2 linked regions of the Homo sapiens genome follow. The protein of the gene in region 1 interacts with the protein of each later gene in a pairwise test. Each region holds a gene or a part of one and is shown in the gene's direction. Other genes may lie near its edges. The genes, in order: PLPP7 and SMO.

Region 1 (3,352 bases):
AGGAATGAAGCGCTGCCACATGGGTGGATGCTGGAAACATTATGCTAAGGAAAGGAAGGCAGACACAAAAGGCCACATGCTGTCTGATTCCATTTACATGGAGTGTCTAGAGGAGGCAAATCCTCTAGAGGAAAGCAGATTGGTGGTGTCCCAGGGGCTGGAGAGAAGGGGATGGGGAGTGGCTGCTTCGTGGGTATGGGGCATTCTTTTGGGATGATGAAATGTTTTGAAATTAGAGAGAGGAGGTGGCTGCTGACATTGTGATGTGCTGAATGCCGCTGAAGCGTGCACTCTAAAATGGTTCACTGTACAAGATGTAAATTTTGCTTCAATTTTTGAAAAATGGGAATGGGGCTGGGCACAGTGGCTCACGCCTGTAATGGGTGAACACTTGGGGAGGCTGAGGCGGGCAGGTCACCTGAGGCCAGGAGTTGGAGACCAGCCTGGCCAACATGGCAAAACCCCATCTCTACCAAAAATACAAAAAATTAGCCAAGCATGGTAGTGTGCACCTGTAATCCCAGCTACTCGGGAGGCTGAAGTATGAGAATTCCTTGAACCCAGGAGGTGGAGGTTGCAGTGAGCCAAGATCAGGCCACTGCACTACAGCCTGGGCAATAGAGCAAGACCCTGTATCAAAAAAAAAAAAAAAAGGAAAAAGGGCCGGGCGCAGTGGCTCATACCTGTAATCCCAGCACAATGGGAGGCTGAGGCGGGTGGATCACCTGAGGTCAGGAGTTTGAGACCAGTCTGTCCAACATGGCAAAGCCCCATCTCTACTGAAAGTACAAAAATTAGCTGGACGTGGTGGTGGGTGCCTGTAATCCCAGCTACTCAGGAGGCCGAGGCAGGAGAATCGCTTGAATCCGGGAGGCGGAGGTTCCAGTGAGCCAAGATCTCACCTCTGCACTCCAGCCTGGTTGACAAAGTGAAACTCTGTCTCAAAAAAAAAAAAAAAAAAAAAAAAAAAAAAAAACCCAAAGAAATAAAATGCGTATTATGTCAGGGCATGAGAAAAGCTGTATGAAAAAATTAAACAAGGTGAGGGGAGACAGCGTGGTGGGGGCTTTTTACAAACAGCGTGGTCAGGGAAGGCTTCTCCGCTAAAGGAAGTAGCTACAGGAAGGCAGGATGTGCCGGGCAGGGGAGACAGCAAAGGCAACAGCCTGAGAGGGGACCCTGCCTGGGGGTCAGTGTGGCTGAGTGGCCTGAGTGAGGAGCAGAAAGGGGAGGCGAGGTGGAAATGTGGGGGGCCAGGGCCTGGGCCTGGCTGGTGGCCCTGATGGCCCAGGGGCCTCTGTCTCCCCCCAACAGCCCTGCTCCTGGACATCATGACGGTGGCCGGCGTGCAGAAGCTCATCAAGCGGCGCGGCCCGTACGAGACGAGCCCCAGCCTCCTGGACTACCTCACCATGGACATCTACGCCTTCCCGGCCGGGCACGCCAGCCGCGCCGCCATGGTGTCCAAGTTCTTCCTCAGCCACCTGGTGCTGGCGGTGCCCCTGCGTGTGCTGCTGGTGCTCTGGGCCCTCTGCGTGGGCCTGTCCCGCGTGATGATCGGCCGCCACCACGTCACGGACGTCCTCTCCGGCTTTGTCATCGGCTACCTCCAGTTCCGTCTGGTGGAGCTGGTCTGGATGCCCTCCAGCACCTGCCAGATGCTCATCTCTGCCTGGTGAAGCGCCCGCCGGCCCACACAAGCCTCTGGGGGCAGGGCTGGCCCTAGAGAAGGGGCAGGGGGTGGCGAGGTGGCGGGCGTGGGTGGAACAGAGCGGCCAGGAGTCAGAGCGGCCACCCCCACCTCATCTTCCCCTCCTGGCTGGAGGCTGGCGAACCCAGGCCACCCCTCCCGGAGACAAGCGTGTTTGGCAGTGCCAGGCCTCTTGCCCCTTTGCTTGGACTCCAAGTCTCCTCTCTAGGCAGCCAGGACCCACCCATGGGGACAGCCCTATTTAGCTTCTGCTCTGGGAACAGCAAAAATCAGGATGGTGGGAGGGGCCGAGTCTTGTCTTGTCCTTTCATCATCATGACTGTTGAGTTCTTGGCTGTGCCCATCACGCCACAGCACGACGCCTGCCAAAATGCCCCCAACCTACTGCCTGATGCAGGTGCCATTGCCATTAGCGGTCATCGACAGCTTAGGGCAGCACTTTCCAACGGGTGCCCATGGGACACCAGCCTGCGAGATGCTTTTGGGGGAAAGGGGTTTTGTGGTTCAATAACTTTCGGAAGTGCTGCACACTCTGTCCCCAAGTTGGACATTCACAAAGGCCGTTATTGCCGTAAAGGCTCTGACAAGCCCTATAGAAAAGCTTCTTGCTAAACCTTCTTTAACCCATGTTTTCTAAACTTATTTGACCACAGAACCCTTTTCTTGGGGAACAGCTATTAACCCCCAAGGAATTATTGGTTCCTCAAGTGCGTTTTGGGAGCTGCTGCCAGAGAGCTAAAGGGCCTGGGGTGTGAGCTGACTCTCCTCTGGGGAGGCCGGGTGCACACGCCACAGCCCGAGGAAAGTGCTGGCCACCGCCCGTGGGCATCGATGAGGCTTTGGCCCCCAGGGGCCGGACTCCGTGTGACCTAATAGGTCGTTTCCAAGTCACCCGTTTTGGATGTGCATTTCATGTGACAATACAGATGACATGCAAATGGCCCTCTCCCGTGTGGCTTTTTCCTCATGCAATTCAATTGCTCTGGATGCATTCACCTTATTAACATGGAACGGGCGGAGGGGTGGGGTAATTCTTCGGCCCTAGACAGTGCCATGATGCCAGGGATCGGGGGCTCTGGGCACAGCTGGTCTGCTCCTGGACTTTACCAGGCTGGCCAGTCCCTTTGCCCTGGGGTGGCTGCCTGGTACTCCCTCAGCCCCCAGGCCCTGTGCTGGCTGCTACCTGGGGCCTGGGCAGGGACCGTTTGAGAGGCCCTCACTGTGATGCTGATGGACCAGAGACCCTCTCTCACTTCAGCCTCAGGCCTTCCCAAGCCCTCCGCCCCGACTCCTGGCTAACCTGATCCTCGTCCGCCAGGAAGTAGGCAAGTGACCAGTGAAACACAGCCAAGCCTAAGAGAGCTGCCGCGAGGGATGTGCAGGGCAGTGAGGGCTCAGAGAAAAGGCCCTGGAGCCCAGCCTTGGGGCATCAGCGCATAGGTCCCAGAAGGGGGAAGTCTGAGCCCAGATGGAGGGAATGGGTGGAGGGAGCCAGGAAGGAGGGGAAGAATGTTCTAGGCAGAGGGAGGAAAGGGGTGAGGGCCAGGAGGCAAGAGCCCCCAGGTCCTATCACAGATCGGCAGGAGGCTTGGGGACACCCGGAGCTCCCCGAACCACACTTTGAGTGTGAGCGCTCGTCTG
Region 2 (3,813 bases), on another chromosome or scaffold:
ATAAGAGTTAACATTTCCTGAGCGCTTACTACATGACAGGTACTGTGCCAAGGGCATTTAAAGCATTATATCACTTTTCACAGCAGTTCCATGAGGTAAATCTATCATCCCCATTTTACAGATGAGGCAACTGAGGCTAAAGATAAAGTACTTTGCCCAAGATCATACAGCCAGGAAAGAGTGGAGCCAAGATTTGGACCCAGGCTGGGCAGTTGCCATGCACATGCCCCTTACCTCTCTACTATGTTGCCTTCCCCCGAAAAGAGTGGTTACCTGTCTCTACCACCCCCAGCCTGGAAATGTGACCGGCACCCATGTTGGCTCTCACATCCTCATATTCTCTCCTAATGCAACTTCTTGCTTGGGAAATAGATATTGCTGAAGCAGGGTTGATTCAGGAAGGGCTTCTGTGATGGGCAGGGCGGAGGACTAGGCTGGGGACGGGTGCTGGGAGATTGCCGCCTGTTTCTGTCTTGCTGACAACATTTTTCCCCTCTCCGCACTGGACAGAGCCTCTTCTGTTCCTCTCCATCTGACTTCCTGCTTCCTCCTCTGGCTTTGGAGTGCCTGGCTCCTCTGACTACCTCTTCTTAAGCCCCCATCTCTTCTCTCTCACTCCGCTTGGTAAGAGGAACAAGGGTTCTGGGGTCTGGGCAAAGGGAAACATCTCCTGGCTCTAGCAAATGGGCCCCGTGAGAGTTGGGTGCACCCCTGAAAAGGTAAATCCACCCCGGGGAGCTCTACCAGAGGCATTACCACTCCCTAGCAGGGCATCTGGAAGTGGCAGTTATTTTCTTAAAACTTAAATGATAGTAAGCATACAGAATAGCGCACAGATCATGAGCTTGGTTTCCACAAGGTGAATACACTCATGTAACCAGTATCAGATCAGGAGATAGAATATTCCCAACATCCCATGTAACCAGTACCAGATCAAGAAGTAAAACATTCCCAGCAGCCCAGAGGTTCCTCTCCAGGCTCCCTTCTAGTCACCGTCCCTAGAGTAGAGGGCTGGGGCATTTTTGTTTGTCACAATCACTTCTGGGTTCTACTGGCATTGAGTTGGCAGAGTCTAGTGTCTGCAATGCATGGGACAGTCCTATGGTATAAAGAACTGTCCTGCCCAGATGCACTGTTGAGAAACACTGTACCTGCCAGGTCTGACCAGTGATGGGCTGCAGTGTGGCAAAGGCCTGGAGGACAGGGGTGAAGCTGCGTCTGTGGGTCAGAGTGAGGAGGGGCCTTCACTGCAATGCTGTTGCCACCCCCAGGCCTCCGGAATGCCCCCCGCTGCTGGGCAGTGATCCAGCCCCTGCTGTGTGCCGTATACATGCCCAAGTGTGAGAATGACCGGGTGGAGCTGCCCAGCCGTACCCTCTGCCAGGCCACCCGAGGCCCCTGTGCCATCGTGGAGAGGGAGCGGGGCTGGCCTGACTTCCTGCGCTGCACTCCTGACCGCTTCCCTGAAGGCTGCACGGTGAGTGCTCTGTGAGACAAGGTCCAGGCTCTCTGGGTTGGGCAGGACCGGGTATAGGGCAGGGTCCAGTGGGGAGCAGGGGAGCCCAGAGCTTTGTCTCCTGGAGACCCTGAGCCTACAGCCATGGGGTCAACAGGACACAAACTCAAACTGCAGCTCACTGGCTGGATCCGTCTATTAGGGATTCTCTATTTATTTATCAATGATCACATGTTCAGCAAAATGTTTTGAGCACTGGCTGTTGGGTGTTGTGGTGTTACGGGCATCACGGATGACAGGAGCCTATCAGGAAGTTTCTCATGTATGTTGGGAGTTAAGGCGCGAGCGTGTGAAACAGCTAGAGCCACCAAGACAGGGGACGTGAGCTAGTTCTGGGTGGTGCAGGAGAGGTCTTCAATGAAAATAATAACAGTAATAATGATGGTAATAATACTAATTAGTCCTGTTTACTATATGCCAAATGCCATTATAATAAGCTCATGCCTGTAATCCCAGCACTTTGGGAGGTCGAGGTGGGCAGATCACCTGAAGTCAGGAGTTCCAGACCAGCCTGGCCAACGTGGCAAAACCCTGTCTCTACTAAAAATACAAACATAAGCCTGATGTCATGGTGTGCGCCTGTAGTCCCAGCTACTCGGGAGGCTGAGACACGAGAATCGCTTGAACCCGGGAGGTGGAAGTTGCAGTGAGCTGAGATCGTGCCACTGAACTCCAGCCTGGGCTACAGAGTGAGACTCTGTCTCAAAATAAATAAATAAATAAATAGGCTGGCCAGACACAGTGGCTCATGCCTGTTATCCCCACCACTTTGGAAGGCTGAGGCGGGTGGATCACTTGATGAGGTCAGAAGTTCAAGACCAGCCTGACCAACATGGTGAAACTCCGTCTCTACTAAAAATACAAAAAATTAGCCAGACATGGTGGTGGGCACCTGTATTCTCAGCTACTTGGGAGGCTGAGGCAGTAGAATCGCTTGAACCCGGGAGGTGGAGGTTGCAGTGAGCCAAGATTGTGCCATTGCACTGCAGCCTGGGCGACAGAGCCAGACTCTGTCTCTCTCTTTCTATATATATAATATATGTTTATTCATTTAACCCTTAAACCATACCATAAGGTAAGTACTACCATCTTAGAAATGGGGAAACTGGCCGGGCGCAGTGGCTCACGCCTGTAATCCCAGCACTTTGGGAGGCCGAGGTGGGTGGATCATGAGGTCAGGAGTTCAAGACCAGCCTGGCCAACCTGGTGAAACCCCGTCTAAAATACAAAATTTAGCCGGGTGTGGTGGTGGGCGCCTGTAGTCCCAGCTACTCGGGAGTCTGAGGCAGGAGAATTGCCCGGGAGGCAGAGGTTGCAGTGAGCTGAGATCACGCCACTGCACTCCAGCCTGGGCGACAGAGCGAGACTGTCTAAAAAAAGAAAGAAAAAAAGAAAGAAAGAAGTGGGGAAACTGAGGTACAGAGAGGCCAAATAATTTGCCAAGCCAGCCCTGGGATTCAGGTCCTGGAAGTGTATCTCCAGCCACCCTGCCATGCTACCTAGATACCTTTCCCTAAACAAGAGGCTCGTCCCTGAGCTGCCTTGACACCGTCTTTTCCCATCCCTGGTGCCAGAATGAGGTGCAGAACATCAAGTTCAACAGTTCAGGCCAGTGCGAAGTGCCCTTGGTTCGGACAGACAACCCCAAGAGCTGGTACGAGGACGTGGAGGGCTGCGGCATCCAGTGCCAGAACCCGCTCTTCACAGAGGCTGAGCACCAGGACATGCACAGCTACATCGCGGCCTTCGGGGCCGTCACGGGCCTCTGCACGCTCTTCACCCTGGTCAGCCGCGGGAGGGCAGGCCCGGGGGGCCCTCAGCCTGGAACGTGGGAAGAGAGCCAGAGGGAAGGGGGGCAAAGAGGTCTTGGTGGGGGTCCCCAGGGAAGGGTCATGATCAGAAGGGTCTGGGGCTCAGTTAAGGGTGTCTGTGTCAGCAGAATAACCCTAACCTCACAGAATGGCCCACTTCTCTCTTCTAGGCCACATTCGTGGCTGACTGGCGGAACTCGAATCGCTACCCTGCTGTTATTCTCTTCTACGTCAATGCGTGCTTCTTTGTGGGCAGCATTGGCTGGCTGGCCCAGTTCATGGATGGTGCCCGCCGAGAGATCGTCTGCCGTGCAGATGGCACCATGAGGCTTGGGGAGCCCACGTAGGTGTCTTGGGGACCCAGAGGTGAAGGTACAGGGAGGAAGGCTGAAGTGTGCGTTTACCCCAAAGGGAGCAGGTGCGTGTAAAACCGAGATCCAGGGCAGGATCTGGCTCTGCCCTACTGCATACTGCATGCAAGATCTC

Evidence for each region.
Region 2: the proteins of PLPP7 (region 1) and SMO interact in a two-hybrid assay, tested with the Homo sapiens proteins (one large-scale study listed by BioGRID and IntAct).

Annotation. Positions count from the first base shown.
Region 1 is NC_000009.12:131,306,609-131,309,960, forward strand, and holds the end of PLPP7 (inactive phospholipid phosphatase 7), read left to right. Parts: intron 1-1,314; coding exon 1,315-1,679; 3' UTR 1,680-2,653; downstream 2,654-3,352. UniProt on the Homo sapiens protein: Plays a role as negative regulator of myoblast differentiation, in part through effects on MTOR signaling. Has no detectable enzymatic activity.
Region 2 is NC_000007.14:129,202,113-129,205,925, forward strand, and holds part of SMO (protein smoothened precursor), read left to right. Parts: intron 1-510; exon of another isoform or gene 511-624; intron 625-1,271; coding exon 1,272-1,477; intron 1,478-3,090; coding exon 3,091-3,300; intron 3,301-3,497; coding exon 3,498-3,670; intron 3,671-3,813. UniProt on the Homo sapiens protein: G protein-coupled receptor which associates with the patched protein (PTCH) to transduce hedgehog protein signaling. Binding of sonic hedgehog (SHH) to its receptor patched prevents inhibition of smoothened (SMO) by patched.